Homo sapiens: one gene and its partners. The protein of the gene in region 2 purifies or fractionates together with the protein of the main gene of each other region. This does not show direct contact. Each region holds a gene or a part of one and is shown on either strand. Other genes may lie near its edges.

Region 1 (3,651 bases), on a different chromosome or scaffold from region 2:
GGTACACAGCCCTGCACCAGGGGCAGTGCTCACCCTGCACCATCCTGACCCCGGGGTGGCGCTCACCCTGCACCCCGCACAGCCCTGCACCAGAGGTGGCGCTCACCCTGCACCCTGCACCAGAGGTGGCGCTCACCCTGCACCCTGCACCAGAGGTGGCGCTCACCCTGCCCCCTGCACCAGAGGTGGCGCTCACCCTGCACCCTGACCCAGGGGCGGTGCTCATCATGCACCCTGACCCAGGGACGACGCTCATCCTGCACATGGACTGAGGGGTGGGTTCACCCTGCACCATCCTGATCCAGGAACAGTGTTCATCCTGCACCCTGACCCAGGGGTGGGCTCACCCTGCACCCTCACCCAGGAATGGTGCTCACCCTGTACCACCCTGACCCAGGAACGGCGCTCACCCTGCACCCTGACCCAGGGGTGGGCTCACCCTGCACCACCCTGACCCAGGAACAGTGCTCACCCTGCACAGCGCTACACCAAGGGCAGTGCTCACCTTGGCACTGTGAGCAGAGACAGTGGTAGTGACGTACGGGGTCCTGTTCTTTTGAAGCAGGTCAATGTAGACCTCAGCCCCATCTCCTCCGTGGACACGCAGCAGGCTAAGCAGTTCATTGACGTCATGGTGAATCCGAAATTCACTCATAGTTTTAGCTCTGAGGCACGAACATCACAATATGTTCTCCTATAGGTAAGAAGACAGCTATTCATAAAATTCAAACTGTAGAAATAAAAAACATTTTTTTAAACACTCAAGACTGGCCAATGTCAGGCTTTGACAAACCAAGTTATCACCTGGCCTGCCTGGCCTAGGGCCCCTCCCCCAACAGCCCAGCAGCCTCTCAGAGGGTCCTCTGCATGGGCCTGGGATTAGGGCCCCTGCCCAACACCCCAGCAGCCTCTCAGAGGGTCCTCTGGACGGGACTGGGATTAGGGCCCCTCCCTGAACTCCAGCAGCCTCTCAGAGGGTCCTCTGCATGGGCCTGGGATTAGGGCCCCTCCCCGACACCCCAGCAGCCTCTCAGAGGGTCCTCTGGGTGGGCCTGGGATTCACCTGCCTCCAGCTTCCAGGCGGCCTCCGCAGCTCCGGGAGCCAGCCCCGTGGGCAGCATGAATGGGGCCTGAGACCCAGGTTCCCTTTCCCCTGCACCTCCCTCCACACATGGGTCTGGGCCAGCAGGGAATGCTCTGCTGCTCGCCTCGGCTTGGGGACAGAGCTTTCTGGTCCCAGACGTGAGGCCTGTGGGGTCTACACAGGGAGCTCTGTGCAGGCCCAAGCCATTGACACTGTGCCAGCTACCGGCACACACAGTAACATCCCAGCTTCTACCGGAGAGGCCCACACTGGTTCTCAGAGCCCGCGGTGCTCAGCCGCAGCTCCATTCACTTGGCCGGCTCTGCGTTACTTTTTCACTCTGGTACCCGTGACATCTCCTTTTCTTGCCCAAGCGTGGCTACCGACAGAGACGCTTCTGGTAGGACTTCTACACGTTCCCTACACGTTTGAGCTAGGTGAAGTTCCACTGCAGCTCCAGCTGCCCCAGGGGCTCACCAGGAGACATATAACACATATGAGATCGAAGGCGTCACAGACACCCAAGTGGGCAGCAGAACACTGCGTGGGGTCAGGGTGTAGGGTGAGCCCACCCCTGGGTCAGGGGGCAGGGTGAGCGCCGCCCCTACTCTCCCACCAGTGGCTGCTCATTAGCCTCTGTCACCAAGAGTTCCGATACAAGGCCATTAAGACAAACACATGGCTGTGTGCAGTGGCTCTCGCCTGGAATCCCAGCATTTTGGGAGGCTGAGTCAGGTGAGTCACTCGAGGCCAGGAGTCAAGACAGCCTGGGCAACACAGTGAGACTCTGTCTCTACAAAAAATACAAAAATTAACTGGGCATGGTAGCATATGCCTGTAGTCTTAGCTACTCGGGAGGCTGAGGTGGGAGGATCGCTTGAGCCACTCCAGCCTGGGCGACAGAGGGAGACCCTGTCTCAACAAAAAACAAAACAAAACAAAAAACACAGGCAAGGCAACTGGCTATAGATTACAAAACAAATATAAGCAAACTTTACATGCTTCACAAACATTTCATCTACACAAGGGTTCTTAAGCCGGTATCCATGAGTAATCAGTAACAGATGAGCCCTTGAAAGTTATGGGCAAAATAACTTTTTATTTTCTGAGGAGATGACCCTTCAACAAATTCTCAAAGGCTCTATGACCCAAAAAAGGTAAACAACCACTCTGCTGACAGCTTCAGGGAGACAAGGATGAGCTCAACAAAACATCGAGTGTGGGCGGCAAGCCACCCAGGTGCCGAGGCAAGAGACCGAGGGCACGAGCTGTTCCAGTGTAACAAAATATATAAAACAACAAGAGTTATGCTAGATCTAGATCATAGATATGATTATATATGAATATCATTAATCATCAGTTTGTAGCAATTACTCTTTATTCCAATATTATAATAATCCTTGCTCTACAATCATAACCTAGGAAAAACCAGGCCATACAGAGATAGGAGCTGAGGGGACATAGTGAGAAGTGACCAGAAGACAAGAATGTGAGCCTTCTGTCATGCCCGGACAGGGCCACCAGAGGGCTCCTTGGTCTAGCGGTGATGCCAGCGTCTGGGAAGATGCCCCTTGCCAAGCGGACCTTGGTCTAGCGGTAGTGTCAGTGTCAAGGAAAAACACCCGCTACTTAGCAGACCGGGAAAGGGAGTCTCCCTTTCCCCGGAGAGTTTAGAGAAGACTCTACGCCTCCAACTCTTGTGGAGGGCCTGACATCAGTCAGGCCCGCCCGCAGTTATCCGGAGGCCTGACTGTCTCCCTGTGATGCTGTGCTTCAGCGGTCACACTCCTGGTCTGCTCTCATGTTCCATCCCGTACACCTGGCTCCGCCCTCTAGATAGCAGTAGCAAAATTAGTGAAAGTATTAAAGTCTTTGATCTTTCTGAAAAGAACATAGAAGAAATAATGACATAAGCTGTCCTCTCTCTCTCCGCCTCGGCTACGTAACAGGGAAGGGCCCCATGTCTGGTGGACACATGACACACATGACCTTATCAATCATTGGAGATGACTCACACTCTTTACCCTGCCCCTTTTGCTTTGTATCCAATAAATAACAGCGCAGCCAGGCATTCGGGGCCACTACCGGTCTCTGCGTCTTGGTGGTAGTGGTTCCCCGGGCCCGCTGTCTTTTCTTTTATCTCTTTGTCTTGCGTCTTTATTTTTACAATCTCTCATCTCCGCACACGAGGAGAAAAACCCACCGACCCTGTGGGGCTGGTCCCTACAATAGAGTACAGAAGACTCAGCACATACTCCCACAATATGCTAATTCACTAACGATTATTAGCACGGGACTCGACACCGAGATTCTAATCCTGTGTGATGGAAGACAGTTTATCTGTAGATGAACATCAAATACTGGTCACAGGCAGGGTATCTCCGAAAATGGAAGGAGAGCGATAAGAAGGCATGGTGCTGAGTTGCTCACACACATGCTTTTGACCCAGGAGGTGCTCACGGTAACTACAGTTCAAGCACAAGGCCAGCAGGGCACGCGCCATGGAGCCCCATGCAGTCTGGACACTGACGTGGCTACTTCTAGGCTGTGGGACCCTGAACAAGGAC
Region 2 (3,550 bases):
TGGTGTGGAAGGCCAGGGCGGTGGGTAAAATAGCAACATGGTGTGACATAAATAGCACCAACTGCAGCACGCTGCAGGGAGCTCCAGAGCTTAGAAGGGAAGTTTTGAAGAAAGGAGTTCTTTGGTCCTTAAGGAGAGAAGAGAAGTATTTGCTGTGGGGGCTGGGAGGAGGGGGTCAATGTCAGGAAAAGAGTGTCACCTAGAGCCATTCAGAGGGCAGCTCTGAGGAACTTCCTGGAGATGGCTGCAGGGGTCCTTCCTGGTGCCCTGCCCTGTGAGGGGCTGGCCGCAGGGTGTCATGCGGAGACAAAGCTTTTCTCAGGGACAGCTGTGTCTTTTGACATTGCAAACATTCCCCCGCCAGCCCCTTGTCCTGTTAGCAAACTCTGAAGAGATCTTTTCACAGAGTTGCACCTGAAGTCGCACAGGAAAAGGGCGCCTTCCCACTCTAGATGCCCTTCTTGTGCAGCTTTCAGGAAGCAGGTTTCATGAGAGGCTAGTGTTTGGTGCATGAGTGATACCTTGTTCAGAATAAAACAGGGGGACAAATATTCTTTTTTCAATTTCTGATCTTTTTTTTAAAATTATTATTTTTAAAAGGGAGATGGGGTCTCACTATGTTGCCCAGGCTGGTCTCAAACTCCTGAGCTCAAGCGATCCTCTTGCCTCGGCTTCTGAAAGTGCTGGGATTACAGGCATAAGCCACATGCCCGGCCTCTGATCTCTTACTATACCACTTTCTCGCTACACCACTGCTGTCGTCTATTTGCTGAATGTGTTACAATAGGAAGCTGTGAGTAGTTTGGTGATTTTCAAACTCGTTTTTAAGGCAAAGAAAAGCCTTTAGTTGAAGGAAATTATATGCATAAGGTGTAAAAATAGAGCTCCCTGTTTGGGAGTGAGTGAAGGTCGACACCTAAGAGCCTGAAGCCCTTTGGCTACCCTTCTCCCCATCCTGTGCCATCGCCAGATGACCTGAGGGAGCCCCGTGGAACCACTAACCAGGAATACTCAATGTGGGCACCCTGGCCCAGCAGATAGGCATCACCCCGGAATGTGTAAGACCTCCTGAATCAGAATCCGCATTTTAACAAGACTGCAGATTGAGAACTTCTGATCTGGAGCCTTTCTAATCACTGACAACATCCGCAGTGGGAAAAGCAACCACACTGGCTCTGAGGGCCACTGTCTATCTTGGCTCTGCCCTGCACCCCAGTCGGGAGCTTTACCACGCCAGCAGACTGGCCTGCGTTCCCATTTCCTCAGCTGAAAGGTGGAAAGAATATTACATTAATGAGGACAGTTCATGTGAGCTTACGCTAGGACTTCATTTAATCTCACAATCTGAAATTAATTCTCACAATTCTGACAACCACGTCAGGAGCACTGTAGACATTACGACCACCCTAGGTTTTAAATATGGAAATGAAGGCAAACGGAGGTGAGGTGAACATTTGTGACTACCCAGCCCTGAAATGGCAGCTTTTCTGACTAAAAATCCAGAGGACTGCCCCCATTTCAGCGCCATCCTCTCAGGGCTGTGGCAGGGGTGACATGCCACAAAGTCATGCTTCCTAAACATCCCTACCGACACAGCCCCCATGGAAAAGAGATGAATGGCTGGCCGGCCGGGCGTGGTGGTTCACGCTTGTAATCCCAGCACTTTGGGAGGCCGAGGTGGGCAGATCACTTGAGGTCAGGAGTTCAAGACCAGCCTGGCCAATATGGTGAAACCCTATCTCTACTAAAAATACAAAAATTAGCCAGGCATGGTGGCGCGCACCTGTAGTCCCAGCTACTCGGGAGGCTGAGGCAGGAGAATTGCATGAACCCAGGAGGTGGAGGTTGCAGTGAGCCAAGATCGTGTCACTGCACTCCAGCCTGGGTAACAGAGTGAGACTCCATCTCAAAAGAAAAAAAAAAAAAAGAGAGAGATGAATGGCTGAGGGTCGATGGGCGTGGCTCGGAGATGCCCACTGCAAAATCTAAACTCTAAATCCCTGGGTTTATTCTTAACAATTTATACAAGTTTTGCATTCACTTCCTCATATAGCTGAGTTTATTTAATATAAAAATAATGTTTCGAGAAACAGAGCTTGAAGCAAAACCAGTGTTTCTGAAAGAAACACTGTTTTTGCTGATCCCAAGCACTCCACCAACACCCTCCAGGGGGCAAGCAACTGAACCTCAAATTGAGAAGCAGGATATGAAGGAACTTGACAAATTGTCCAAGGCAACTCTGAAGTACGGAATTGTTATCTCCAGAAATCCTGACATCACAAATATGACAGTTCTCTCACCCCTGGCCACACCACCGCTCCGTAACTCTCTATGGATTCCTGGATGACAATCTCCTTTCCTGCAAACCGATAATGCTCCTGAGTGTAGCTGGCGTAATCTGTAGGAACAAATTTCTGGAGGCTATGAAGAGATGGTTCTATCTTGTTGGATTCTGTGAAGCAGAAAAATAAAATGGAGTTCATGATTTGTTCAAATCCAGTGCAAAGACACACTTGGTATAATTGCTAAGATGGCATTAGATTGAATGACCTTTACATAAAGAGAAGGGATGATGCTATCAAGGAGAACGGCTGCAAATTGGCACAAAATTGAATTATATGGGGTGATGGGGACATGAAATTTGGATGTGACAGTTTTATCAGATGACAAAATGCCAAAGAATGCTCTGGGCCTTTTCTTTATTTAGGGGAGGACAGAAGATGTGTGGATCGGTCCCCACCCTAAATTTTGCTGATGGAAAAATGGCGAACTTACCAGCAAAATTGCACGAATGAGCTGTCTGGATACAGAGGAACTAGGTAAACACAAACCTGCCTTTTTTTTTTTTTCTTTTTGAGACAGAGTCTCACTCTGTTGCCCAGGCTAGAGTGCAGTGGTGTAATCTCAGCTCACCGCAACCTCTGCTTCCCGGGTTCAAGTGATTCTCCTGCCTCAGCCTCCTGAGTAACTGGGATTACAGGCGTGCGCCACCACGCCCAGCTAATTTTTGTATTTTTAGTAGACACGGGGTTTCACCATGTTGGTCAGGCTGGTCTCAAACTCCTGACCTCGTGATCCACTCGTCCTGGCCTCCCAAAGTGCTGGGATTACAGGCGTGAGCCACCACGCCCCGCCAGACCTGCCTATTTTTAGGTCTTGAAGTGAAGTAACATTCCCACGTGTTGGCTGGAGCATGTTCCTTCAATCTTTCCTACAATTGCTGTTCAAAAGGTAGAGGCCCAGCCAGCCCCACAGCCCTGGGGGAGGATGTCAGCTGAGCTCTGGCTATTAAGTTACTATTGCTTTAAATACTCCTTTAAACCCATGACCCATCTAGCAGCTCTCAGATGGCATATAAAATGAGAGGAAAAGAGCACCTGATCGGGCTGACATCAAGAGATCACAAGTGTTTGCAGGTTTTCCAGAGTGTTTAGGAATAAAAGAGCAGTGAGTCAAAGTGTGTGGAAGAAGGAGCAGGAGCAGAGGAAAAGGTGTTGGTCCCAGCGGGTGGGAAAGAATTAACAGTGCGGAGAGTAGGGGGGAGGAAGGT
Region 3 (3,651 bases), on a different chromosome or scaffold from region 2:
ACTTGGGTTCAGTTCTAGCTGTGCTACTTATTGGTATGTGAGCCTAATATCTCCAAATTACAGTTCCTACATTTATAAGATGGGAGATAATGTTTCCCTTCCTGATGGGGAAGGATTATCTACTAAGGCAGGGACAGATAAGTCTATTTTCTGTTTTGTTGACCCACTATATCCCCAGTGCTGGTTGCTGTCATTATTATTATCCTGTGCTATGCTATATCTACCTACTTATGGCTCCTCAAGTAAATCATGATAGTTCACAGCTTAGTTTTTTTGTTTGTTTGTTTGTTTTTGAGACAGGATCTCACTCTGTCACCCAGGCTGGACTGCAGTGGCACAATCGCAACCCACTGCAACCTCAAACTCCTAGGCTGAAGCAATCCTCCCACCTCAGCTTCCCAAGCAGCTGGGACTGCAGGCATGTGCTACTGCACCTGGCTAATTTTTTAAAATTTTTTTTATAGAGACCGGGTCTCACTTTTTTGCCCAGGCTGGTCTTGAATTCCTGGGTTCAAGTGATCCTCCCACCTCAGCTTCCCAAAGTGGCTGGCATTACAGGCATGAGCCACTGCGCCTGGCCGACAGCTTAGTTTTGTATGATCTCTGTTAGTGTCACCTCTATATAGCTGTATGATCTTTAGTAAGTTACTTAATTTGTAAGTGGGATAAAAAGTCACAGGATTGTTATGAGAATCAAATAGAATAATGTATGTACAATGCTTAACATATAGAAAGTGTCCAATAAATGTTAGCTCTTTATTGTTTTATTTATATTATTATCATTAGAATTATTTTCTTCAAGACCAGCGGTCCCCAACCTTTTTGGCAGCAAGGACTGGTTTCATGGAAGACGATTTTTACATGGAGCAAGGCTGAGGGGAGATGGTTTCAGGATGAAACTGTTCTACCTCAGATCATCAGCCATTAGATTCTTATGAGGAGAGTGCAACCTAGATCCCTCGCATCTACAGTTCACAATAGGGTTTGTGGTCCTGTGAGAATCTAATGCTGTTGTTGATCTGACAGGAGGCAGAGCTCAGGCAGTAATGCTTGCCCGCCCACCACTGATCTGCTGTGTGGCTTTCCTAACAAGCCATGGACCCAATCCATGGCCCAGGGGTTAGAGACTCCTGCTCTAGACTATCCTTCCCCTTTTCTTTGACTAACCAATTCCTGCTCTTCCTTTAATACCTTGTGAAGTCCCCAGGCAGAGTTGTTTTCTTCCTTATGATTCGGAAGTACCTTCACCTGCGTAGCTATTGCTTTGCAGTATTACTGTTTAGGGGCTAGATGTTTTGTCTCACATATTACTAGCACCTAACCTAGTACTTAGCATGTATCACTAGCACCTAGCATAGAAGTTGGCATGTCGTAAGTTGTAAGTAAATGTTGAAGGAATAAGTGAAGATAGCTGCAATTTTATTAATTTTCAAAATTTTGAGAATACCTTCTAGTTTTAGTACTGTAGAATTTAGTTTATTTTTTAGTTTGTCTTCTGTTTCTCCTTTTTGTTTGTTCTCTCTCTTTCCCCGTATTTGTTTTAATTACCTTTATTGGATATTTTTCCCACCGATGTTATATCTCCTTTGAGGCAAGGTGATAGGAGCAAGATTTCATGGTCCATGGTTTTTTATAGTATTAGAATATACAGTGCTTTCAGTTTGGTTTCCAATAACTTTCCTGTCCAATATGTTGAGTTTTTTTTTTTTTTTTTTTTTTTTGAGACGGAGTCTTACTCTGTCGTCTAGGCTGGAGTACAGTGGCGTGATCTCGGCTCACTGCAACCTCCTTCTCCCAGGTTCAACCAATTCTCCTGTCTCAGCCTCCTGAGTAGTTGGGATTACAAGGTGCCCACCACCGTGCCTGGTGAAGTTTTGTGTTTTTAGTAGAGACGGGATTTCACCATTTTGGCCAGGCTGGTTTCGAACTCCTGACCTCAAGTGATCTGTCCACCTGAGCCTCCCAAAATCTCATGCTGGGATTACAGGCATGAGCCACCGTGCCTGGGCCATGTTGAGATTTTTTTGTCCACAGCTTTGTATTGGACTGTCTTCAAGAAAAGTCCATTGTGATTGCCTCATTCTCAATATGATTCATATGTAGTTAAACTACAGAAATGATGAGAACCTAGAGAAGAACAGGTGAACTAGTTGTTATACCTGAGAGTATTTTTAAATTTTTTAACTGAAAATTTTCTCTTAATATATATTATGGGAGACTAGTTCTCACAGGATAAATGGAAAGGAAGACCAGTTCTTTCAAAAGGACACCAGCTGACTTTCTTTTAGGATCCATGAAACAGTTTGATACCATTCTAGGCATTAAGTTTTCAATATTCAGAAATAGTATTTGAGATTATACTTGGTACTGGGACATCTGTATAATACTTAATTTATTAATTAGTAAACTGGCTGCTTTTGGAGAGTCAGAGTGGTGGGAGGGCAAAAACAAAAACATGGGCTTGAAAGTTTAAATCCTGAATCAATCATTTAATATTTAGCTAGTTATTGAAACTGGAAAATTACTTTAAATGTTCTCTTTATTCCTGATTCTATTTTTATGCCTTCTTAGATCTATTTTACTAGTTTAATAATTTTTTTTTTTTTTTGAGACAAGGCCTCTCTCTCTTGCCGAGACTGGAATGCAGTGGCGAGATCTTGGTTCACTGCAACCTCTGCCTCCTGGGCTCAAACGATCCTCTCACCTCAGCCTCCTGAGTAGCTAGGACTACTACCATGCCCAGCTAATTTTTCTTTTCTTTTTTTTGTTTTTTGTTTTTTGTAAAGGCAGAGTTTTGCTGTGTTGCCCATTCTGGTTCCAATCTCCTGGGTTCAAGCTATCCACCACCTCAGCCTCCCAAAGTGCAGAGATTAGAGGCGTGAGCCAGTGTGCCTGGCCTACTTTAATAATTAATAAAAATAGGTGGATAAAACCCATCAACTTCACTCTGAGTGAGAGGAGATCTGCCCCTAACATTTGTAAGATCCAGGATAAGCATCCATTTACCACAATAGGCCTAAATATTTAAAGCTTATAAACCAGGCCAACAAATCATTATCTATATTCTAGTCTTTTCTCTTGATAAATATACCTTCATAATGACTTGAAAGTTTCAAATTTAAAATCTGTGGAATTTAGAATTCATAAATTCACAGTTTTGCAGCAGAGTGTGGTTAAGCCCAACCTCCTCCCGTCATCTCTGGCTCTTTCTAGCACCACAAAGAGGTCTCCTGTACATGCTGTGAACACCTTGCATGCACGCACAAGGTCTAAGCTCTTGTACTCCCATCCCCAAACAAGTACTCCTTGGCCCAAGGGTGTACACAAGTGTAGCACAGTCTTTTCTAAGGACAGACCTAGGAAAGAGGCCTGTGTGGGCCTTCAAATTGAGTTAGAAGTGCTTGGGCAAGAAATTGCAAAGTTCTGGGCACCTGGAGTGTCATTTAAAAGTGGGGAGGTAGGCCAGACTTGGGGGCTCACACCTGTAATCCCAGCACTTTGGGAGGCTGAGGCGGGTGGATCACTTGAGGTCAGGAGTTCAAGATCAGCCTGGCCAATATGGTGAAACCCCGTCTCTAATAAAAATACAAAAATTAGCAGGGCATGTTGGCGGGCCCCTGTAATCCCAGCTACTCGGGAGGCTGAGGCAGG

The links.
Region 1: the proteins of METTL21C (region 2) and TUBGCP2 purify together in Homo sapiens (affinity purification with mass spectrometry, with the first as the bait; one study listed by BioGRID). This does not show direct contact.
Region 3: the proteins of METTL21C (region 2) and CCDC88A purify together in Homo sapiens (affinity purification with mass spectrometry, with the first as the bait; one study listed by BioGRID). This does not show direct contact.

The regions. Positions count from the first base shown.
Region 1 is NC_000010.11:133,302,287-133,305,937, forward strand, and holds part of TUBGCP2 (gamma-tubulin complex component 2), read right to left. Parts: intron 695-3,651; 5' UTR 656-694; coding exon 506-655; intron 1-505. UniProt on the Homo sapiens protein: Component of the gamma-tubulin ring complex (gTuRC) which mediates microtubule nucleation.
Region 2 is NC_000013.11:102,688,513-102,692,062, forward strand, and holds part of METTL21C (protein-lysine methyltransferase METTL21C), read right to left. Parts: intron 2,453-3,550; coding exon 2,301-2,452; intron 1-2,300. UniProt on the Homo sapiens protein: Protein-lysine N-methyltransferase using S-adenosyl-L-methionine as methyl donor. Mono-di and trimethylates 'Lys-943' of AARS1.
Region 3 is NC_000002.12:55,409,850-55,413,500, reverse strand, and holds part of CCDC88A (girdin), read left to right. Parts: intron 1-3,651. UniProt on the Homo sapiens protein: Bifunctional modulator of guanine nucleotide-binding proteins (G proteins). Acts as a non-receptor guanine nucleotide exchange factor which binds to and activates guanine nucleotide-binding protein G(i) alpha subunits.